2 separate regions of the Homo sapiens genome follow, and region 1 is linked to region 2. The links come from fine-mapping of genetic effects on gene expression. A gene starts in region 2. The other region holds a variant in brackets. All regions are shown on one strand. Distances are between the middles of the regions.

Region 1 (5,374 bases), 190 kb after region 2:
AAAGGGCTGAGATTACAGACATGAGCCACCAAATCCAGCTTCCAGAAGTTTTATTTTTATTTATTTTTTTTGAGATGGATTCTTGCTCTGTCGCCCAGGCTGGAGTGCAGTGGTGTGATCTCGGCTCACTGCAAGCTCTGCCTCCCACGTTCACGCCATTCTCCTGCCTCAGCCTCCTGAGTAGCTGGGACTACAGGCGCCTGCCACCGCGCCCGGCTAATTTTTTTTGTATTTTTTGTAGAGATGGGGTTTCACCGTGTTAGCCAGGATGGTCTCGATCTCCTGACCTCGTGATCCTCCCGCCTTGGCCTCCCAAAGTGCTGGGATTACAGGCATGAGCCACCGCGCCCGGCTGCTTCCAGAAGTTTTAAATTCATTTAAGTCCAATTTATTTCTTTCATGGATTATGCTTTTTGTGTATCTAAAACCTCATCACCAAACTCAAGGTCACCTAGATGTTCTCCTATGTTGTCTTCTAGGAGTTTTATAGTGTTTGGGTTTTACATTTAGGTTTAAGATCCATTTTGTCAAGGGCTCTAGGTCGAAGGAAAAAAGAATCTATTTTAACATTTTAAGTTAAGGGGTAAGGATGGGTCTAGATTCTTTTTTTTTTGCATGTCGATGTCCCATTATTCCAGCGCCACTTGCTGAAAAGATTATCCTTCCTCCCTTGAACTGTCATGTTCTTTTGTCAGAGAGAGTGGGCCATATTCATGTAAGCCTATTTTGGGGCTCTCTATTCTGTTCTGTTGATCAATTTGTCTACTCTTTCTCTAATGTATGCTGTCTTCTTTTTTTTTTGAGACGGAGTTTCACACTTGTTGCCCAGGCTGGAGTGCAATGGTGCAATCTCGGCTCACTGCAACCTCTGCCTCCTGGGTTCAAGCGATTCTCCTGTCTTAGCCTCCCGAGCAGCTGGGATTACAGGTGCCTGCCACTACACCCGGCTAATTTTTGTATTTTTAATACAGATGGGGTTTCACCCCATTGGCCAGGCTGCTCTTGAACTCCTGACCTCAGGTGATCTGCCTGCCTCAGCCTCCCAAAGTGTTGGGAGTGCGGGCGTGAGCCACTGCGCCCGGCCTATGCTGTCTTGTTTACTTGCTTTACAGAGAATCTTGATGTCAGGTAGTGTCAGTCCTCTAACTTGTTCCTTTTCAGTACTATGTTAGCCATCTAAATCTTTTGCTTTTCCATATAAACATTAGAATCAGTTTGTCAATATCCCCAAAGTAACTTGCTGTGATTTTGATTGGGATTCTATTAAATCTATAAATCAAGTTGGGTATAACTGACATCTTAATAATACTGAGTTTTCCTATCCATGAGCACGGACTGTCTCTTTATTTACCTAGATCTTCTTTATGAGTTTTGCAGGTTTCTTCAAGTAGGTCCTGAATGTATTTTGTTAGATTTATGCCTAAGTGTTTCATTTTGGGGGTGCTAAATGGTATTTTGCTATTAATTTCAAATTTCAATTGTTCACTGCTGATATAAAGGAAAGCAACCGACTTGTACATATTAACCTTATATCCTGCAGCCTTGGTATGATCACTTATTAGTTCTAAGTGTTTCCTTGTTGATTTAAAATTTTTTTTTTGTTTTTGAGACTTGTTTTTTGTTTTGAGACTCTTGTTGCCCTGGCTGGAATGCAATGCCATGATCTTGGCTCACCGCAACCTCCACCTTCCGGGTTTAAGCGATTTTCCACCTGAGTAGCTTACGGGCATGTGCCGCCACGCCCAGCTAATTTTGTATTTTTAGTAGAGACGGGGTTTCTCCATGTTGGTCAAGCTGGTCTCGAACTCCTGACCTTAAGTGATCCACTTGCCTCGGCCTCCCAAAGTGCTGGGATTACAGGAATGAGCCATCGCACCAGGCCTGATTTAAAATATTTTTAATTATTTTTATTTTTTTGTTTTTTTCTGAATTAAAAGAATTTTATCTTACCTCACCTTATCTTATCTCATCTTATCTTAGAGAGAGTCTCACTCTTGTTGCCCAGGCTGGAGTGACCACCATGCCCGGCCTTATTTTATTTTTTATTCAGACAGAGTCTCACTCTGTCACCCAGGCTGGAGTGCAGTGGTGCAATCTTGGCTCACTGCAAGCTCCGCCTCCCAGGTTCATGCCATTCTCCTGCCTCAGCCTCCCGAGCAGCTAGGACTACAGGCGCCCGCCACCATGCCCGGCTATTTTTTTGTATTTTTTAGTAGAGACGGGGTTTCACCGTGTTAGCCAGGATGGTCTCGATCTCCTGACCTCGTGATCCACCCACCTCGGCCTCCCAAAGTGCTGGGATTACAAGCGTTAGCCACAGAGCCTGGCCAACATTTTTTTTTTTTTTTTGAGACGGAGTCTTGGTCTGTCGCCAAAGCTGGAGAGCAGTGGCGCAATCTTGGCTCACTGCAACCTGCACCTCCCTGATTCAAGCAATTCTCTGCCTCAGCCTCCCAAATAG[C/A]TGGGATTACAGGCGCCCACCACCACGCCTGGCTAATTTTTTGTATTTTTAGTAGAGATGGGGTTTCACCATCTTGGCCAGGCTGGTCTTGAACTCCTGACCTTGTGATCCACCCGCCTCAGCCTCCCAAAGTGCTGGGATTACAGGCGTGAGCCACCGCACCCGGCCAACAGTTTTTTAAAATGCAAAAATTCCTGTCCTCACGGAGCTTACCTTACAGTGCAAGAGAAAGCTAATAAATAAAAATACGTCTGATGGCAATAGGTACAAAGAATCTGCTGATAGATCAGATGAGGGGAGTGAGGAGAGGGAGCCAAGGATGATTGCATTGTTTCCGGAGGAATGGGACTCCCATTTACTGAGAAGACTGTGGGAAGAGTAGGGTTGAGTAGAACAGGATGAAAACAGGAATTTGGTTTTAGACATGTTGAGGCTGAGGGACTTACCAGCCGCTGAAGTGGAGATGTCAAATAGGCAGCTGGCTTATATAGTCATGTGTTGCTTAATGACAGGGGCATGTTCTGAGAAATGCATTATTAGGCAATTCTGACATGGTGCCAACATCATACAGTGTACTTACACACACCTAGATGGTCTACTGCACACCTAGGCTGTATGGCATAGCCTATTGCCCCAGGCTACAAACCTGTACACGAAGTTACTGTATCGAATACTGCAGGCAACTGTAAAACAATGGTAAGTATTTATGGATCTAAACATATAAAAGGTAATGTGTTATGACAGCTATGTCACTAGGTAATATAAATTTTTCAGCTTTATTATAATTTTTTTTTTTTTTTGAGAAAGAGAGTCTCGCTGTGTTGCCCAGGCTGGAGTGCAGTGGCGCAATCTTGGCTCACCGCAATCTCCACCTCCTGGGTTCAAGCAATTCTCTTCCTCAGCCTCCTGAGTAGCTGGGATTACAGGCATCCACCACCATGCCCAGCTAATTTTCATATTTTTAGTAGAGATGCAGTTTCACCATCTTGGCCAGGCTAGTCTTGAATTCCTGACCTCGTGATCCACCTGCCTTGGCCTCCCAAAGTGCTGGGATTACAGGCGTGAGCCGCTGCGCCCGGCAGCTCTATTATAATCTTAAGGGACCACTATCATTTATGAGGTCAGTCACTGACCCAAGTGTCATTATGTGGCACATGACTGTATATGAAACTCAAGTTCAGGGGAGAATTCCAGGCTAGAGATGATAGTTTGAGATTCATAAGCATCTAAGTGGTCATTAAATCCTTCAAATTAGACGAGGTCACCTAAGCAGTGACTCAGAGAAGAAAAACACAAGGACTCCGGGGCTCTCTAACATTTGGAGGTTGGGAGATTAAAAAAAAATAGCAATGGAGATTTAGGAGGAGTAGCCAGTGAGGAGGAAAACCAAGATAGAATGGTGTCTTGGAAGCCAAGAAAAGACAATGTTTCAAAGAGAGCATGACCAATGTTAAATGGCCTGATAGGTCAAGTGAGATGAGTACTGAAAACTGAACCCTACTTTTAGCAATGTGGAATTATCAGTGACCCTGAAAAGAAGGCTCAAGAGTAACTAGGAGGAGATAAAGCAAAGACAGAGAGCATAACAAACTCTTTCAAGGAGTTTTGCTATAAAGGGAGGCTGAGGAATGGGACAGTATTGGAGGGGGATGTATGGTCAGGAGGAGTTTTCTGGGGCTTATTTTTTCTTCATTAAGCAAGAGAAGCTACAGGATATGTTTATGTTGATGGGAATGATCCAGAGGAGAGAGACACTTAGGAAACAACAGCAGAAGGTGAAGCTGTTTGAGATGCAAGATGATTTCTTTTTTTTTTTCTTGTCTTGAGACAGAGTATCACTCTGTCTTCCAGGCTGGAGTGTGGTGGCCTGATCTCAATCTGGGCTCACTGCAACCTCCGCCTCCTGGGCTCAAGCGATCCTCCCACCTCAGCCACCCCAAACTGCTGAGATTACAGGCATGAGCCACCACACCTGGTCTAGATGATTTCTATTCGTAATAAAGACATAGATATGGCTGCTATTATTGCAGTTTATTGCCTTTCATCATAATTGATGTAAACGCAAACTTTTGGTTAGAGGTTAGTAAAAGCGACATGCAATTTTTCTCCCATCTAAGTTCATGAGCCCCCCTAGTTTTAGGGTATGATTATGCAAGTATGTGGCTGAGGTAGAGTAGATGACAAGACCATTGAAGGAGGGCTGGTGAAGGAACTGAGAGGCTGAGGTTTTGTGGAAATCATGTAAGTGGACAGTGAAATCTCCAAGAATTCTGAAACTGTGATGGTCCTAAAGGAAGTGACAGCGAGCTGGGAGCTAAAATCTCGGCCTCCACTTGAATGAACGCTCCCTGAGTCAGGGTATTCCCAATGCACGAGGCAGCTTCTCCTACTACTGGACGATTGTAATTATAGGAAACTTCTTCCTTAATCTGAATTACATTCTACCACCTAACATTCCCCATCTTGCTCTTGGCTCAGCCCTCTAGAACTATTCAATCCCTCTGACTTAAGATAATTCTTGAAGCAGCCTAGACAGTTCCCAGTGTTCTCTTTTCCAGGAATAACATTCTCAGGTCTTTCAACCACTCCTTACACATCATGGTTTCCAGTACTTTCACTATTTTGCTTGCTCTCTTTGCAATACACTTGATTCGTTGTCTTCCTAGGGGTGACAGTCAGTGGCATGATCTTCTGACTTCCCTTCTGCTATTCAAATCACTATGGCAATTAATAACACTTTATTTTGCCAAGATGGGTGTGGGTACAACATTGTTACTGAGCGACAGCAAAACATCTTATACAAGTTATACAAAGATGTTTTTCCTTTATAATCTGTAGCCTTCTGCTATCCCTGCTAAATTCACAGTGATTAATGTTATGGTGGTGGAATTACTGACAAGAAAGAATGTTACA
Region 2 (5,374 bases):
GCTCATGCTTGTAATCCCAGCACTTTGGGAGGCCAAGGCGGGTGGATCATTTGAGGTCAGGAGTTCAGGACAAGTCTGGCCAATATGGTGAAACCCCATCTCTACTAAAAATACAAAAATTAGGCCGGGCGCGGTGGCTGACGCCTGTAATACCAGCACTTTGGGAGGCCGAGGTGGGCGGATCACGAGGTCAGGAGATCGAGACCATCCTGGCTAACACGGTGAAACCCCATCTCTACTAAAAATACAAAAAATTAGCCGGGCGAGGTGACGGGCGCCTGTAGTCCCAGCTACTCGGGAGGCTGAGGCAGGAGAATGGCGTGAACCCGGGAGGCGGAGCTTGCAGTGAGCCGAGATCGCGCCACTGCACTCCAGCCTGGGCGACAGTGAGACTCCGTCTCAAAAACAAACAAACAAACAAACAAACAAACAAACAAACAAAAATTAGCCAGGCGTGGTGGTGCACATCTGTAATCCCAGCTACTTGGGAGTCTAGGCTGGAGAATCTCTTGAACCTGGAGGCGGAGGCTGCAGTGAGCTGAGATCGCACAATTGCACTCCAGCCTGGGTGACAAAGCGAGATCCTGTTCCCTCCACCCCCCCACACCAAAAAAAGAGGCGTCTCTGCCAGGCACGGTGGCTCAGGCCTATAATCCCAGCACTTTGGGAGGCCAAGGTAGGAGAATCGCAACAGCCCAGGAGTTTGAGACCAGCCTGGACAACATGGTGAAACCCTTCCTACAAAAAATACAAAAATTAGCCAGGGGTGGTGGCGCGTGCCTGCAGCCCCAGCTACTCGGGAGGCTTAAGCGGGAGGATCACTTGAGCCCAGGAGGTTGAGGCTGCAGTGAGCTGTGATCGCGCCACTGCATTTCAGACTCAGCAACAGAGCGAGACCCTGTCTCCAAAAAAAAAAAAGAAAAAAAAAATGAGCTGTCTCATTGAGCTCAATCCTGCCCCTTTCTAAGGGGGAATAATAAAAACAAAATACCCATGGAGAGAAGGAAAATTTAATGAAAACAACAACAAAAATATATTGGAAAAAGCAAGCAACTTGGAACTGGATCTTAGTCTGATGACTGGCTCCTCAATTCCTAAACTGGATGGTTTGAAATCTGTTATTTAACATCCCTGCATACACTGGGGATAGTAATTCCTATCTACCTAACAGAGCTGAAGCTTAAACGAGAACATTGTAATATGCCTAAGGTCCCAAGAGCTGAATCAACAAAGGGAATCTGACAGAGTCAGCTTACAACAGAGGGAACTGGTAGTTTTGCCTCAATGGAGGGACCTACAAGGGACACAGACAGGGATCAATCTCTGTGGGACCAAAGCTTTGAATCGAAGGCAGAAATGCAGTCGTTTTACAATTTTCTCCTTTCCCCCCAAAATAAGAGCAGTATTTAGATTCTTTCTATTGGTCAATATTGATGCTTCTGCATGGTGGTGCTGGCAAAAGGGATGACGGATAAAGTACTGGATTTAGGGCACCTCTGCTATGTGACCTTGGGCTCACGTTACGTCTTCGCGCTTCAGTTTTCTCATCGGTAACACGAAGATCAAAGTTCCTTTTAAACTATGCGTCCAGTTTTTGTGAGGATCCAACTCGAATGTATGTGAAAACGCCCTGGAAGCGCTAGAGCGCCAGGCAAATATTAAGTTTGGTAATTTTTTCCCCGTAAGAACTAGGCGTTCCAAAGAGGAGGACAACCTCTCTGCTTCCTTTGTCACTCTCCTTTCTTCTCGACCTTTACCAACTTTGTAATTTATAATCACAGTAATAGCTGACATCCTACAGCGGTTTCTGGCACCAGATTCTCGGGCCCCACCCAGATCCACACCACCAAGCCGCAGCGCCGGCTGAGACCGAAGGAAAACTTAGCCGTTCTCCACCCGCGGGCGGGCACTCGCCTCTAGGCCCCACCACCCAGAGTCCCGGAAGCCAATCCCCACAGCCCTGGAGCACTGCCCCGCCCCTTCAAGAGGGAAAACAATATGGCGGCAAGGAAGAATGGCAGGGGCGTGAGCCAATCACCGCAGAGGCCTAGCCTCATCCGGCAAGGCTAAGAGGCGGTATCATTGGCTAAGATGGACAGCCAGAGCAACCAATAGAGCGATCGGAAATGGGGGAGAGGGCGGGCGACGGGAATCTCACACAGCGGTTAAGGCCCCTAGAGCCAAGGGCCCAAGGACTGGCTTGGACTATAACTCTTTCCTTTATCCACTCCAGAGTTCTCCATCCCACTTTTGCTGGCTGGCCGCCTTGCCTGCGGACTATGTGATAAGGGGAGGAAGGAGGCGGCGGTGGCTGAACGCGCCTGACAGGCCGGGCCAGTGACAAAGAGCCGGCGGCTCAGGCTGAACCCCGGGAAGCGATCCTTTCGAGGAGGAGAGCCCAAGTCCCCTTATAGATAGGAAAGACGCAACTCACGTTGTCGATCACGACAGGCTGGTTGGCGATCACATCGTAGGACTCCATGGCAGAGGAATCTCTCCTTCTGGGGAAGGAACTGCCCAGCCGGGTCCGCCGCTAGCGCCACTGACACGCATGCGCAGTCTAGCCGCCGGTTCAGGGCGGCGAGGGAGCGGCCCGACCTCGCCTCTGAAGAACTACAATCCCCAGCAAGCTTTGCGCCTGGGTTAGCGATCTAGCTTGCTTTGTTGCCCGCCTAGTTTAAGATTGGGAGTCGCATTTCCAATGCGCAGTACCCTGGGATTTGTGGTCTCCCTAGATTAAACAGCCAGAGACACAGGTTGATGGTCATGTTGCATGCCTGGATCTGTAGTCCCTTTGAAGGAGTTCGCAGTGCATGCTGAGGTATGTAGTCTTCTCGAGTACTTGTCTGTAGTTCGGTTTGGATTGGTCGTAATTCATGGATGTTTGGATTTTGCAGATCAGCCCTGCCACTCCCCCCGACGTTCCCTTAGACAATATAAGGTTCTCATGTTTTTATTTGGGTCTGTAAGACTTTAATAAACATCTCCTAGCACCTCACACTCTAACAAAAAGGAAATGTTAACACACGTACGCGAGAGGACATATTCCTACAACAAAGGAAAACAATTTAAATTGCATAAAATTAGCTTTAAGTTTAAAAACCTGTACATTGTCGTTGCCTTTTGCATTTTCTTTTTTTCTGCATAACAGGCTAACATTGATCCGAAGATTGGCAATTGGAACTACTGGTATAGGTAATCTTTTGGTCATTAAAACATCATCTAAGGGTTTCAGAAACTGCTCGAGTATCTCTTTAATTTTCATAACGAGCTAGAATTGACACTGATGGTTGAGAAAATGGAGGTGAAGAGAGGTTATGTGTCACTGCTTTCAAATGAGCCCAGTGCATTTTTTTCTCTGGATTATGTTCTCCCCCAGCCCCCTTGAAATTTCAGGGACCTTTTTGTCAATAGCCCTAGAAAACATTAGATTTATTATCATCTATTAATACTAACGCCCCATGGATGAATGAATCAATCCATTGTCAGATTTATGTTTAAATCCTAGTTAGCAGCGCGTCAGCAAAACAGTAACAAATCCTTTGTTGGCGCACTTCTCGCTGCTTTCGTGGGACCTTAGCACCTCAGAGGGTGCTCAGCATCTCTAAACTTGGGTTCCTCCTAACACTAGGGGGAGACCAAGAGCCTTGGGACACTCCCAACACAGGGAGGGGAGGCGGGGCCTATTGTCAAGTCACACCTTCCCTGCCTGTGACTGGCACAGACATTAGCCAATGGGTGCTTGGATAGGGTGCGCCGGCGCCCCGCCCCCCTTAGCGCCCCGCCGCCCCGAGGCACCCTCTGGCAGACTCGGCGGCGGCGACAGCCTGGGCGGACAGTGCGCCGTGCGCAGGCGCGGAGCTAGACCTCGCTGCAGCCCCCATCGCCTCGGGGAGTCTCACCCACCGAGTCCGCCCGCTGGCCCGTCAGTGCTCTCCCCGTCGTTTGCCCTCTCCAGTTCCCCCAGTGCCTGCCCTACGCACCCCGATGGCGGAGCTGCGGCCTAGCGGCGCCCCCGGCCCCACCGCGCCCCCGGCCCCTGGCCCGACTGCCCCCCCGGCCTTCGCTTCGCTCTTTCCCCCGGGACTGCACGCCATCTACGGAGAGTGCCGCCGCCTTTACCCTGACCAGCCGAACCCGCTCCAGGTTACCGCTATCGTCAAGTACTGGTATGCTCTGGGCCGCGGGGAGACGGACAGGCGCGGGCTGGAAAGGGTTAAAGCGCCGAGGGCGAAGTAATTTGTGGGAGGTGGGAGGAGGGGTAGAGAATGGTTAAAGCACTCAGAAGGAGGGCTTCTTGCTGCGAGGGAAGGAGTTAAGGCTCAAGTTGGGAATGGGGACAAAGGGGTTAACGGAGCCCGTGGGTACTGAGGGGTTAACCGGGATTAGGAGAATAGAGTGAGGACTGGGGGTGTGTGTAGGAGCAGAGGGGGGAACGGCAGGAGCGAGGGAACTGTAAACGTGGTGAAAAGAGGGGGCGCCTGTAGGGGGTCATTAGTGGGCGAGGGGAAGCCAAGCGGGGGCGGCCGAAGTGGGATGGGAGAGGCGAGGCGGGGCCTGGGGAGCATTTGAGAGGGCTTTGGAGGAGCGAAGCCGAAGAAGCTCAGAGGGCACGAGACTGCATAGAATGGGGGGTTCGGGGGGCCCAGGGCTCTCCTGTGGTGGGTAGGAGGGCCAAAGATGAGGGCCTGGTGCTTGTGGAGAGAGGAGGAGGTCTCCTTTTGATACCTTCCCGATTAGCTCAGACGTCGTATCAGGGCAAAGCTTTTGCTTTTGAAGTTTGACGGAGCAGCTCTTCCTGATAAACTTTTTGCTTACTCTGCACTGTTCTCTTTCTCCGTGCAGAGCTTCCTCCTAGCTCTGCAGTTGCTTCGCTTTAGGGCATTAGGTAGAGAGAACCATGGTTTGGCTTAGGATTGAAGGGGCCGACAGCTTCCCACCTCCAGTTGGAAATAAATGGTGGAGACTCTGGGACCCCAGCAGGGAGGAATTGTGCAGTGGGACATTAAGAGGAGCTTCTCGGCCATGGCCTGCAGTTTCTCCGGGGAGCTGAGAGTAACCCTCAAGTAGCTTTAGGGTAGGAATGGTCTTTTCTAATTTCCCATTCCTGTTTGCAGCCTGTTTCTTCCTTCAGCATTTGGGCAGAACAGATGTTCTGGGGACTCTGGAAAAGAACCTGTCCTCAAAGTCTTGCTGGACCAAAAACTGAGATATTGGTTGAAACTGTCCAGGACCACATTCATGCAGGCATTGTGTAAGATGATCTTCAATGAGTCTTGAAAGACTGTTCTGCAGCTGCTTGGGGGTGTAGCCAAAGGGTAGACCTGAAGGGGCAAGTGGACATCTTTGCTGGTTACCTCTCCTTTTAGGACTG

The links. PIP is the estimated chance that this variant, and not a neighbour inherited with it, causes the effect.
Region 1: its variant is fine-mapped to the expression of ACTR1A in whole blood (INTERVAL, PIP above 0.99).

Annotation. Positions count from the first base shown.
Region 1 is chr10:102,693,935-102,699,308 of GRCh38, forward strand. The region is part of intron 3 of ARL3 (ARF like GTPase 3); the gene reads right to left. Among named protein-coding and RNA genes, the nearest start is that of ARL3, 18 kb to the right of the region's middle. The variant C/A (reference allele first, on the strand shown) is at 2,462.
Region 2 is chr10:102,500,166-102,505,539 of GRCh38, forward strand. It overlaps ACTR1A (actin related protein 1A), which reads right to left and starts at 2,547. Exons shown (of 11, transcript NM_005736.4): 1 at 2,435-2,547. The coding sequence starts at 2,482. SUFU (SUFU negative regulator of hedgehog signaling) reads left to right here and starts at 3,807. Exons shown (of 12, transcript NM_016169.4): 1 at 3,807-4,169. The coding sequence starts at 3,988. RefSeq lists enhancers at 531-1,031, 2,426-2,525, 4,994-5,374 and silencers at 2,876-2,945, 3,623-4,092, 4,407-4,701.